Homo sapiens: one gene and its partners. The protein of the gene in region 2 interacts with the protein of the main gene of each other region in a pairwise test. Each region holds a gene or a part of one and is shown on either strand. Other genes may lie near its edges.

Region 1 (3,500 bases), on a different chromosome or scaffold from region 2:
GCAAGACTCCATTAAAAAAAAAAAAACAAAACCCAAAAACAAACAAAAAAAACCCAGCCCTTTGTACTCCAGGGCTTGGGAGGGAGCTGCGACTTCATCTGTGTAATCGAATGTGACACAGGCTACTGGAATGAACTGGACTTTGGGCTCCAGGCTGGCTCCTCCCAACCCTGACTGCTCCCTAAAACAGTCCTGCCTGAAAGTGCCAGGCTGTCCTATGGGGTGGGGTCACTGATCTAAAGTGGCTCATTCTGTTGGCTGGCAGGTGACCCAACACATGGGGTCTGTGTCCCGTGACCAGGAATCAGACTGGTTCTCTCTGGGGTTTGGACATGGGGATGATGGAGATCCCTTATACCTGGGAGGCAGAGGGGAGCCGGACAGGTGTGGAGAGAGAAGCAGAGGCTGAGGGGAAAAGTGCTGTAGTTCATGAGAGAGAGTGACAGAGAGAGAGAGGGAGTCTCAGGTCCTGATGCTTTCTCGATTTTTCTGGCCATGGTTATAATAAATCCTCTTTTCATGAGCAGACCTGGCTTTTCTTCCTTACAAAAGAGACCCAATACTACATAACAGAACACTAAATACTGTGATGTTGCTTACACAGGCCCAGAGCTTCTAACACAGAGAGTTGTCTGGGTTGGGCTTCCCCTGAAGCAGATCCCCAGATAAGGATTTGGCTTATTTGGAAAGTGATCCCAGGAAGCACAAATAAGGGAGTGAGACAGTGAGACAGATAAGGGAAGGCAGACAACAAAGAGTGGGTATTGAAGTAATTACTACTGTGGTCCACTGGAGGCGATCTTTAGGAAAGAGTATGGAATGGGGCCCAGTGCGGTGGCTCACGCCTGTAAGCCCAGTACTTTGGGAGGCCAAGGCAGGCGCATCACCTGAGGTCAGGAGTTTGAGACCAGCCTGGCCAACATGGCAAAGCACTGTCTCTACAAAAATACAAAAATCAGCTGGGTGTGGGTTGTAGGCGCCTGTAATCTCAGCTACTCAGAAGCCTGAGGGAGGGGAATCACTCGAACCCAGGAGGCAGAGGTTGCAATGAGTGGAGATTGCGCCACTGCACTCCACCCTGGGTGACAGAGCAAAACTCTGTCTTAAAAAAAAAAAAAAAAAGTTACGCAATGAGACCCAGATTCCTTCCATCTTTTGGGTGAGGGAGCTGTGGTATTTATCCACCAACTCCCACCAGATCTGGTGGAGGGCTCTTCTCAGAGTGGGTCTGCTGGCAAAGGGATGCAGGTGCTGACAGCTGGAAGTGGAACCAACCTTCCCTAGAACGGTAAAGGCCGAGAGGATATGAATGGGACGCTGACAGCACATGCTCCAATATAAGCATTTACTCAGCATCTGCCAGATGCTAGATATTGTGGATCCTTAACACAGATTTTCTCCAACCCTTACATCAATCCTATGTCGTAGGTTCCAGTTTACTCCTGTCTTATGGATAAGGGATTGAGGCTCATAGCAGTAGGAAAATGGCTGAGCTGGGATTTAAACTTGAGTCTCCAAGATTCTTTCCATTTTCCCATGCTAGCTCCTACAAAGCACTGAAATGGTCTTCAGAGAGCAAGAAGGCCAAGCTAAGGTGGAGGGTGGCTTAGGAAACAAGGAACAGGCTTCTACCCGCCCCATGGCCCCCCAGTGACTTTGATAAGCCACCAACTTGAGATGCCAGCTGTGTTGGTGTGGGAGGTCGATGCTCAACTATGGTGGCAGCCTTACTGCTTAATACAGCCAATCCATAAAACTCTATGCCACGTTACACTAGCCCGTCTCTCTTTTTTTCTGTAAGATTTGGTGGGCAAACAGTGGTCCAGTACCTCTCTTTTTTGAGCTGTTTTCTGACACAATCCTCAATGATTGCATTGTGGAGTGTGTAGTACTTGGTCCAGTAGATACAGATGACTTCATACTCCAGGAGCAGGTCCATCACAGTGGTGAAGCCTTCGTCCAACATGAAATTCTCGTCTTCTTCAGTACCCATTTCCCAGGCATAGATGGTTAGAAGTTCAAGAGCATAGAGAGGGGGCAGATTGGCTCTGGGGGACCTGGCTTTCACATACTGTTGAAAGAGATGGGAAGACAGAGAGAGAGAGACCCTAAGATTCTGTGTAAGGATGGCGTTGGACCAGAAGCTGAGAAATCCAAGTTCTAGTCCTGGCTCTGCTGCCTACTGGCTGTGTGACCTTGGCCATGTCACATTCCATCTCTAGACATAGGTTTCACCATTTTAGAATTAAAGGGCTGAGTTAGTCCATTGGGCTTCAATATATGCTCAACAGATGTAACTCCTGGAATGAACTTATGAACAGGTATGAGCAGATTGCGCTCGGTCACAAACATTCTAGCCTAAGCAGTCCCATTTAAATCTATTTTAATGTATTGAGCTGCTGAGAAATGTTTCTTAAAAGAAAGGAAAGGTTTCCTTAGATAGAGGGAAAAAATGGTAATAGGTGAGATTCTGTAGTGAAGATTGGGGTTGCCTCTCTAGCAGACATTCTTTCCTTCCCCATTGCATAGTAGCCATGATGTTTGGAAGGGGTTGACCCCCACCCGCAGCTCCAGGATGGGCCCTGACTGGCACAGTCCTATCAGCATAAACCTTTCCCCCTTGCAAGTGATTGCTTCAAGAGAAGGCATGCGATCTAAGTTGGCTCAACTAGAGTAAAGCCTAGTTCTTTTGTTCAGTGGTTGAAAGAAGAGAAGTCCTCCCATGTGTGAATATGAGGGCAGGAATAGTTGTGGCCATTTTGCCACCAAGAGGGAAACAAGCCAAAGGACCAAGCTGACATATAGAGGAATGAGAAGCTGAGAGAATTCCAGAGAAACAGAGCCAGTGCCCTCACCAGTGCCTGAAACCCGCCCCCCCCGCCCGCCCCCCCTACTGTTTAGGGGTTTTCCTACATAAGCTGATAATTCCCTTTATTGTTTAAGCCAGTTTGAGTTGGTTTTTGTGTTTTTCTCTTACTTGCAAAAGGAAGCATCTTAACTGACAGTGGTCACTTCCTGTGTTAAGAATCTCACTGAGGCCGGGCGCAGTGCCTCCCGCCCGTAATCCCAGCACCTTGGGAGGCCGAGGCGGGTGGATCACTTGAGGCCAGGAGTTCGAGACCAGCTTGGCCAACATGGTGAAACCCCGTCTCTACTAAAAATACAAAAATTAGCCAGGTGTGGTGGCAGGTGCCTGTAATCCCAGCTACTTGGGAGGCTGAGGCGGGAGAATCGCTTGAACCCAGGAGGAGGAGGTTGCAGTGAACCAAGATCATGCCACTGCACTCCAGCCTGGGCAAGAGTGAGAACTTGTCTCAGAAAAAAAAAAAAAAAAAAAAAAAGAATTTCACTGATACATTGATATTTAGCCAGAAAGTGAAAAATTTTGGTCAAATATTCAGTAGTTTGATTTGTGGAAGTAAAACTGACATATTTTCCTATGGCCATCATATATGAATATTAGCTCCCATCCCAAAGTCAGAGGAGAAAAAAAAAAGCTA
Region 2 (4,214 bases):
GGTGATCTGCCCGCCTCCGCCTCCCAAAGTGCTAGGATTACAGACATGAGCCGCCGCGCCTGGCAATTTTGATTTTTAAAATGTTAATTTCTGCTTTCTAGGGGCAGAATTCAACTGGTAAGCTGTAGAAATCAGCCTCTTCTCTCTTCTCTTTCTTCTTCTCTTCTCTTTTCTTTGAGGCAGTCTTCCTCTGTTGCCCAGGCTGGAGTGCAGTGGCATGATCTCAGCTTACTGCAAGCTCTGCCTCCTGGGTTCAAGCGATTCTCCCTGCCTCAGCCTCCCAAGTAGCTGGGAATACAGGCACCACTGCCAATCACACCCGGCTAATTTTTGTATTTTTAGTAGAGACAGAGTTTCACCATGTTGGCCAGGCTGGTCTCGAACTCCTGACCTCAGGTGATTCGCCAGCCTCAGCCTCCCAAAGTGCTGGGATTATAGGTGTGAGCCACCGCGCCCAGCCATAAATCAGCCTTTTCAAGTGGCCTTCTCATCCCAGTGTTTATTTCTTGGGCAGCAATTTCTAACCCCCTCCTTCCTCAAGTTACTTTCAGTATCTCTTCCCCTTTGCTTTGTCAGCTCCAGCCATACAGTCCTTGCACTTCTTGAAGCTCACCCAGCAATGTCTAACGGGGTCTTTTAAACCTGTTCTCTTTGAAACACATATCCCCAGAGATAACACAGCTTGCTCTCCTACTTCAAGTGTTTATTTAAATGTCACCTCAGTGCGGTCCCCTCCCACAATCATATTTAATAATGCAAATTTCTGGATACATACACAGTAACTCCCCTGCCTTATTTTTGTTCATAGCATTTATCATCTTCTAACATTACTATCACCACTATGCAATTTATTTCTTTGTTGTTTATCCTTCCTAGATGGTAAGATCAATGAAATCAGAGATTTTTGTTTGTTTACTGATATATTGTCAGTCCCTGCCATACAGTCACTTAAAAATGTGTTGAATAAATTGTGCCTCGATTTTGTTGAATGAATTGAATCACTAGTGGTATAGGAGCAAAGGATTAATATCAGGCCTGGGATAATACAGGCTGCTTGAGAATAACCTCAGTCTCCTATAATACAGTCTTCTTGGAAACTGGAGAGACTAATGGGGGTGTTGTATCTGTTTCCCATGTTGCACCTGGTTTGGAGCAGCTATTAGATGGCATGGAGGCCTTATGCCTACGTGACCAGAACAACAGATTGATAGGCAAAAGAGGTTAAAGCTTTCACGTGTCAAAGTGTCCTAAATACACCATGGTCCTTATCTAGGGAAGGCATACATGCCTGTTGTGGGTAAATGGGAGAAAAAAGTAGTGAATTTGGGTAATTGCTAGATATGGGTAAATGGCTTGGTGGCCTCTGGTGGGATGAAGAAGCTGCATCTACCCTATCTTTTGCCTTGACTCTTCTTTGGTAAGCAGTATTTGCATCTCTTGAGTCTGACTGCTGGTTAGAATCTCTAACTGCTACAGTGATGCTGCTGATAGTAACAGAAATAGATAATGTGTTTCAAAGTGATATCCAGTAAGAGGGTACAAAGCCCTTAATGCATTTCACCTCAAATCTCCAACTAAACATGCATTCTCATCAAACTCAACAGAAGTACATTTTGGCATTTTAGGTTTCAGTAGATCAATCAAGTACCAATTTTGAAATTTTACAAGTAATGATATATTTAGGTGATGCTAGCTTAAGACATAAAACACAACTATAGGTCAGAATTAATAATAGAAAAACAATGAGGTGTCATTGAGTACCACACAACCATGTTCTTCACCTCATGCTCTTACTTCAACCCATCCTGTCAGGTTTTCCTCATCACCATTCTAGAGAAACTGCAAACAAGCTCCTCAATGTGCTCCACTGTCTACTTGACCTCTCAGCAGCAAATGCAGTTGGTAACTCCCTCCTTGAAAATATTTTCTTCATATAGCTTCCAAACGAGTCTTCTTCCTTTTCAATTCCCTTTTGCAATCTCAGTTTCTCAATTTCCTTTCACCCTACCTCTCCCACTGTGCCCTACACCTTTACATGATGCCTAAATTGGACTCAGTCCTGGGCTTCCTTCTCATTTACACACTCATTCTTTCTGAGGATCCTGGCTTTAAGCTCATTGGCTTTATGCTGATGCTTTACAAATCTATCTTCTCCCATTAGCTCCCCATTCCAATATTCAACTGTCCACCTGACACCTCCACTAGTTTATCTAAAGGATATCTCAAAATTAACATGGTGAAAATAGGACTCTCTAGTGCTAACAATCCCCTCCCACCAATTTTCCCTATCTCAGAAACACCAATTACAAAATTGCTGAAAAGGCAAAAGCCTTAAAATCATTCTTAATTTCCCTTTTCCTTACACCTCATGGTCAACTCATCAGTATTTCTGTTAGCTCTAACTTTAAAATATATCCCAAATATGAATAATTCTCATTTCCTCCATCATAAGCACCTGGTCCAAGCTACTACTGCGTTGTCTGAACAACTACAAGAACTTTATTACTAGTCTGCCTGCTTCTAATCTTCTTCCCTTATAATCGATTCTCCAGATAGAATTACCATTTAAATATGTAAATCAGATCATGCCAATTCCTTACACAAACTCCTCCAAAGGTTTCTTTTTTTTTTTTTCCCTGAGACGGAGTCTCACTCTGTCACCCAGGCTGGAGTGCAGTGGCGCGATCTCGGCTCACTGCAACCTCCCCCTCTGGGTTCAAGAGATTCTCCTGCCTTAACTCCCAAGTAGCTGGGACTATAGGCATGTGCCACCACGCCTGGCTAATTTTTTTTTGTATTTTTAGTAGAGACGGGGTTTCATCATGTTGGCCACCTGACCTCAGGTGATCTGCCTGCCTTGGCCTCCCGAAGTGCTAGGATTACAGGTGTGAGCCACCGCGCCCAGCTCAGAGGTTTCTTATCACACTCAAAATAAAGTCCAAAAACCTTACTGTGGTTGACTGGATCTTAAATAATCTGGCCTGGGGATCTCTCTAATTTCATCTATCACAATTCTTGCCAACAGGCTCAGTCCAAACATAACAACCATCTTTTCGTTCTTTAAACATGCTAAAGCCATTCCCACTTCAGGGCCTTTGCCCTTGTTGCTCCCTTTACCTTCCTTACCGTATCTGTATGAATTACTTCCTTGTTCACTTAGGTCTCTGCAAATGTCACTTCTTAGAGAGACTTACCTCTTTCCGCTCAATCTAAAATATTCCCTCCCTGCTGACCTTAACTCCGTCCACTGCCTCAGTCACTATTTTTTATTCTTGTATCTTGTTGTCACTACCTGGAATTATAACTTTATTTTTTATTTTTAATTATTTATTGAGATGGAGTCTGTTGTGCAGCCTGGACTGCAGTGGCACAATCTTGGCTCACTACAACTTCTGCCTCACAGGTTCAAGTGATTCTCCTGCCTCAGCCTCCTAAGTAGCTGGGATTACAGGCAGCTGTCACCACACCCTGCTAATTTTTGTTTTCAGTAGAGATGCGGTTTCATCATTTTGGCCAGGCTGGTCTCAAACTCCTGACCTCAAGTGATCTGCCCATTTGGGCCTCTCAAAGTGCTGAGATTACAGGTGTGAGCTACCATGGCCGGCCTGGAATTTTAATTTTATTGTCTACCTATCCCACCAGAATGTAGACACTATGAAGGCAGGAACTTTAACTTCATCAGTACCTAAGTATCTGTTGAATAAAAAAACAAATTTAAAAGTACCTGTAAAGTGTTAAGCATTTCAAATTCTTTGTAAGGTTGTGGGATGTAAATAAAATACAAATAGGCCAGGTGCAGTGGTTCACGCCTATAATCCCAGCACTTTGGGAGGCCGAGCCAGGTGTATCACTTGAGGTCAGAAGTTCAAGACCAGCCTGGCCAACAAAGTGAAACCCAGTCTCTACTAAAAATAACAAAATTATCTGGGTGTGGTGGCCCATGCCTGTAATGCCAGCTACTCGGGAGGCTGAGGCAGGAGAATCGCTTGAACCCAGGAGGCAGAGGTTGCAGTGATTCGAGATCGTACCACTGCACTCCAGTCTGGGAGACAGATTCAGTCTCCATCTCAAAAACGAACAAACACAAACGTAGGCTATAATTATCAATTATTCTATAATTGATAATTATAATTCTATAATTGATAATCTATAATTATAAATTATTGATAATTATCCAATTATCAATAATTCTATCCAATTATTCTATCCAATCT
Region 3 (3,500 bases), on a different chromosome or scaffold from region 2:
TTTTTCTACAAAGCTGTATTTTTTTAACTGATTTATAGGAGGTTGAAACCCAAAACACCAATAACCAAAGAAGAAACAATACACCTGTCTTAACTGAAAATACTGATAGTTTGTTAATCATGAATTTTTGCACTGATCTGATGTAAAATATTGCATCAAAATATGATGTATCTTGCTTACTAAGGTTTTTGGCAATCTTTTAGATTTGTGCCCCAACTCCCTAGCCTTGGCTCTACTTGTTAAAATTTCACTGAACTATTTTTCAAGTTTGCTGGCATAACCCTCCAAAATTCGGCCTGAAAACTGATCAACTGTCTTAACGGTGATATTACGATTCTCAAAAAAATTTATTTAAACTATTAATGGCCACTAACTAAACTGGCAATTACTTTTATTTAATGCAATCTGGTACTGATTTTCAGAAGACAAGTTACTAAACTTACTCAGCTACAGTTTCTTGCTTAGATGTTTCTTCTCCAGTATTACTGGATACTTCCACACTTTGATCCTGAATAGCAGGGGTACTAGTAAGTTGTGCTTGTTCCTCAGTTGAAATAGTTACTGTATTCTCATTATCTACAACAGTAGCAACAATGGAAGTAACTTCAGGCTCAGGAACAACTGGAACAGTTCCACTGACAGTATTAGAAGCAGAAGTGGAAGCATTAGCATTGGCTGCAGCTGCTGCTGCTGCTGCCGCTGCTGCTGCTGCAACAACAGCAGCTGCTGCTTCGGCAGCAGCCATGGTGCTCATTGTGGTCGGAATTTCTGTTGTAGGGACTGGGGCTGTTGATGTTGTGGTGCACTCTTCTTGCTTACTATACATTAAAAAAAGAGAACACTGGTCATTTCATTATTGTAATCAGAAAGCTAAATAAAGGTAGCTTTAAAATGGTCATAAAATCAAATAATAAGAAAAATAATTGAAGGAAAAAACGGCAAGAAATGCCAAGCCCATTAAAAAAGATTTTAAAACCACAGAATGTAACTGTACTACTTTAATTCCGTTAACATTCATGGTAATGTATTACAGGCACTCAAAAGTTCAGTAAGCGTTCACATTTATAAAATACCCAATCTATCAGACTGTATTTACACCACGAAAAATGACCTGTATTAGAAAGTTCTCTAAGAACTTTAAATTTTCTCCAGTTTGCCCATTTAGAGGAAACCCTATATAAAGGAAGAGATACACAGATATATTTCGTCCATTCCCTAATCAACTCAAACGGAATTTGGGACTCTTCTGTAACACAGTCTTCTTAATTTGTTAAGGGATACAGTCCAAATTCTAATAATTACTGTATAGCAAAACATCAAATTGAGTAAATATCCCCCTCCCTAATTTTTCCTCAACAAAATGCTACAAGGACATCAAAATATCAAGCCTAACATGTTAATTATTTGTATTATGAAAATTGAGAAAACACAAGGATATCATAGGAGAGACCAAATTTGTAAATAAAAATTGATGTCCAAAATTGCTTACCTGCTTTCTTCAGCTTTGATCATTGCTATTAAAGAGAGAAAAAAAGTCATCTACTAGTTTTAAAATATAATCACTGAAAACAAACTTTAAAAGAAGATAAAGTATCATACAATAGGATTTCATTTACCATCCTAAAAAATAAAAAATCACTTTTACAGAACAAATTCTTGCTCCGAAAGTCTAGTATAGCAAATAAAGAATACAACAAACTTAAATAACAGTAATTACTAGGAAAGCTTATTCCATGCTGCTGCTTTCCCAAAGGCTGCTGCAACAACTCTATGAAAGTATCTGCATAATTCTGGATGAAAACTGTATTTTCTTCAGGGATGAGACTAGTTTGATATATTTTTAAGATACTAAATTCAAAATGGGATCAAATTTATTATAAAATTCCAGCACATATATACTAGCATTGACAAGTAGATAGATAGTTACGCACACCAACTATTTGTAGTAGGGTTATATCAGAAATGAGCTTGATAATTCATAAATGATCAACTGGGAATCTACCTATCTACAATATTATTATTAGCCAATGCTAGTATAGGTAACTTAAACTGAGCTTTAAAGATCTGCACAATTTCATTTTTCATTCCAGTACATTTTCCTTTGGATGTAACAAAAATACCTTTTATTTAACATTACTAGGGAATGAGGTTCTCCACATTAAGTAATAATACAAGCCTAACTCTTTATAAAAAAAATTTTTAAAACTTATCACCCTTTAAAGAAAAACATTTCTGAAAATCTGTTTAGGATGGCTGAAAAAACATACTTACAAAGTTATCATTAATAATATAAATTAACATTTTTCTGATACAATGATGATCTATCTATCTAATGAGGTGGCACAAGGAAAAGGTAAAGGGGCTTAATATGACAGTCTTTTAGGAAATTTTTATTCTCTTTTCCTGCCAGATGTCATTCCACATCACTATCTACTTTATTAGCCCCATTCTCCTACAATCTGCTGCTTCTAGTTTTGTATAATTTATGACACTAGATTCTATTAGAAGTGAGTATAAAAACTAGATTTTCAATCCTTACTTATTATCTCTATTTTAAGTCTTAGGTTTTATATTTAGTATTAAGTATTTCTAGATTTTTAAGGGTTATTCTGATTAGTTCCAATGTTGAAAAATTTTCCCTTTATAAGTAAGGCATGATACTTGGTTTACCTTAATTCTTCCATAAAGAACATATCAAGGCTATTTTGCAACACTGTGCTAAACAAAACTAGCATTAAATATATAGTCTGACAATATACTAACAAAATATAAATGGATACAGATTCAAGGTTCTCCACTATCTATTACCATGAAATGAGTTAAAACACATGTTCTATGTATGCACCACTCATAGTAGGACTTGGAAATTTTGTATATGAACTCCTTGTTCAATTGAATGATAAACGATCTTTTTTCTAAAAACCAAAGTACGACTTTAAAAGCTACAAGCTCATTTATAATATAACCCTTTAATGAAAAGAATTCTTAGAGATTTTTCACTGCAGATTTATCCAATTATGGTTAGTGAATATTAGTGACATACTCTAATAAAAATGTTAAGTATGACAGAAAATGAATTATCAAAGCAGCTCACCATGCAGGTTTGATTTTGTAATAAGACTTCCAGCAACAATGGTATTCTGGTATCCTAGTTTCAGTGGAATCAAATCAAATAAAAATCTATTTAAAATCTACAGAACTGAGATCTAAAGCAACAAGAAAATAAGAGCCCAAAAAACTGTTATACGCCATTTTAAATGTTCTAATCATTTAATTAAAAAAAAAAATAAGGCCTTTGTTTGAACAATCCTATTCTGGAGGAATTGTTTCAAAGTGAATGGCATATATATGTAAAACATATACATTGAAAACTACTTTTCCCCATTTTACCTTCAAGATCCTCAAGTTCTTTAGGTTTGGCCCAGCGAGATTCTTTTGTTTGAGAATTATAATAGTAAGGCTTTCCAGAATCTGATTTGTATTCCTTCCAGGGGCATTTA
Region 4 (2,699 bases), on a different chromosome or scaffold from region 2:
AGTTCTATATTGCCAAACATCATTCTCTTTTTGCTATATAAATCTTCTATTTCTAATTATTGACCAAATGCTTTACTGAAACTCCGCTTCTGGCCTTTGTTTTGGGATCTGTTACTTTTGTTGCCACCTCCTGATCGCTGTCCTCTCGGGCCTCTACTGCCTTCCCGCTGTCCTCTGAATCTTCTGTTTCCGTCCCGCTGTCCCCTGAAGCCTCGACTGCCTTCCCGCTGTCCCCTGAAGCCTCCATATCCTTCCCGTGGTCCTTCCAGTTCTGGTTGCTCTGTGGCCACAGAGAGCTGCCAGCGTCGTGAATCATGCCATTTCTCCTGTTGAGAGAATGTTTTGTTTTTGTGTGCTTTAATTAGTATTCAATTTTTAAAAAGCATGAGAAAAACAAAATATTTGCCACTTCTTCAAAGAAAAGGTGATAACATAAGTGCTTAACAAGTCACTGGTCAAAAATAACACTGGCCACCCATCATGGTCCAAAAGCCAGTGTCCCTGAAGTGTGGGAAAACACAGTTTCATTATGAGAAATAGCCCTCATCACTACTTCATTTATTAAGTTATTAAACCATTTATTCAACTCAATTGCTACAGGGTATCTACAGCCAAAGGTAATAAAACAAATATATTAAGCACACATTTCTCACAGTATTGAATAAAGATGTAACAATTTTAAATGTCTATGAAAACCTGTAGGCTGGACGTGGTGGCTCATGCCTGTAATTCCAGCACTTTGGGAGGTGGGTGGATCACCCGCGGTCAGGAGTTCGAGACCAGCCTGGCCAACATGGCGAAACCCCCGTCTCTACTAAAAATACAAAAAATTAGCTGGGGGTAGTGATGGGCCTATAATCCCAGCTACTTGGGAAGCTGAGGCAAGAGAATCGCTTGAACCCGGGAGGCGGAGGTAGCAGTGAACCGAGATTGCACCACTGCACTCCAGCCTGGGCGACAGAGCGAGACTCTGTCTGAAAACACACACACACATGCACACACACACACACACACACAAAATCTATATACCATATATAAGTGTTAAAGGGTGGGGAGAGCTGGATATCGTTCACAACTTTGTATAAAGGAAATATAGAAACCAGGTGGGTTCAACTACAAAAATATCAGAATTAAAAAGTTAGGGGGGAATATTCCAAAATTTAATTATCGATTATCTCTTACTAAAGGAACCAGAACTATTGTTTCCCAATCTATTATTCTCTATTTTCATAATTAACATTCTACAATTTAGGTATGTTAACTTTAAAATCTAAGGGAAAAGAATACCTGTATTTCTGTTACTGATGCGGTAGGTACATCAAAGCAAACACCCTAGAAATCAAAGCAAATGGAAGTTAATCCAACCAACGCACATGAAAAATACTCCCTTTAAAAGACCACGTATTCTTTAAAAAAAAGAAAACAAAAAACATAAAGCAAAAAAACCACCAGGTATAATTTTAGATGAACTTTAGACCAAAGCTAATACATTATAGCTGCCAAAAGTACACTGCAGAAAGACAAGGAACATTGAAAAAAAGAACCCCAAATGATTTAGAACTTTCTAACTATAGACAGAGTCTTAGCTATTACACTGTGCTAACCCCCTAGTGGCTATTAGCTACATTTTATTGCTGAGCAAACAGGCTTGGAAAGGTTAGCTGACTTGTCTAAGGCCCCACAGCTATTAAATGGCACAAGTATTTAAAATCTAGTCTGTATGGCTCTAAAACCTATAGTCTAAACTATATACTGCCTTCCATCAGAAAAGCAATGCCAGCTATTCAGAATGACCTAATTAAAAGCAGAAAAACAAGTGATCTTCTATTGTTGATTTTCTGGTTTTTCTTAATTCAGCCTTCTGTAAGAGTATGAAAAAAATAATACAGGACACCATCTTTTTTTTTTCCCTCTTAAGATAGGGTCTTGCTCTACTGCCTAGGCTGGAGTGCAGTGGTGCAATTAACAACTCACTGTAACTTTGAATTCCTACAGGTGCATGCCACTACATCTGGCTTTTTTTTTTTTTTTTTTTTGGTAGAGACAGGGTCTCACTACATTACCCAGGCTGGTCTCAAGAATTATCTTCCCAGCTCAGCCTCCCAAAATACTGAGATTACAGGTGTGAGCCATGGCACCTAGCCAGGACACCATCTTTAATATTAAGTGCCATCCTCTCCAATCAAGGAAATCGTCTAAAAATATAGTCAAACTATGTGTTAACTAATACAGGCACTCCTCTCCCTGCTGTCTTCAACTGCAATATTTTATAAGGAACACCCCTTTCACCCCAAAATTTACCCAATCATAACATAGGTATCATCACCTACTGGTGGATTTTGCCATTCATGGGAATCTTCGCTTACATATTTACGAAGTAGAGTATAATCCCAGGCATTCACTGGGTATAGAGGTAATTAGAAAACAGTTTTTGCCTTTGAGTGTTCTTGAGGCTCTCCATTAGCAAACACAGCAAGGTAAAAGTTTACCTGCATAAACATGTGTCCTAAAGACTCTGAAGTACAGATAAAGACGCCCCTAACATTGCCTGGTAAGATTTAAGGCTAAGCAAAGTCATAAAAGCTACTTTGGAGGAAAAGATTTATATATATATAAAATTTTTTTTTTAAGACGGAGTTTCACTCTTGTTGCCCAAGCTGGAGTGTAATGGCGCGATCTCGGCTCACCGCAACCTCTGC

Evidence for each region. Proteins that work in one complex are often made in the same cells at the same time.
Region 1: the proteins of LARP7 (region 2) and OASL interact in binary tests that used the Homo sapiens proteins (3 or more experiments, as listed by UniProt).
Region 3: the proteins of LARP7 (region 2) and PRPF40A interact in a two-hybrid assay, tested with the Homo sapiens proteins (one large-scale study listed by BioGRID and IntAct).
Region 4: the proteins of LARP7 (region 2) and DDX21 interact in binary tests that used the Homo sapiens proteins (3 or more experiments, as listed by UniProt).

Annotation. Positions count from the first base shown.
Region 1 is NC_000012.12:121,025,747-121,029,246, forward strand, and holds part of OASL (2'-5'-oligoadenylate synthase-like protein), read right to left. Parts: intron 2,072-3,500; coding exon 1,830-2,071; intron 1-1,829.
Region 2 is NC_000004.12:112,639,812-112,644,025, reverse strand, and holds part of LARP7 (la-related protein 7), read right to left. Parts: intron 1-4,214. UniProt on the Homo sapiens protein: RNA-binding protein that specifically binds distinct small nuclear RNA (snRNAs) and regulates their processing and function.
Region 3 is NC_000002.12:152,675,962-152,679,461, forward strand, and holds part of PRPF40A (pre-mRNA-processing factor 40 homolog A), read right to left. Parts: coding exon 3,391-3,500; intron 3,149-3,390; coding exon 3,095-3,148; intron 1,515-3,094; coding exon 1,490-1,514; intron 819-1,489; coding exon 444-818; intron 1-443.
Region 4 is NC_000010.11:68,980,170-68,982,868, reverse strand, and holds part of DDX21 (nucleolar RNA helicase 2), read right to left. Parts: intron 1,333-2,699; coding exon 1,288-1,332; intron 327-1,287; coding exon 57-326; 3' UTR 1-56.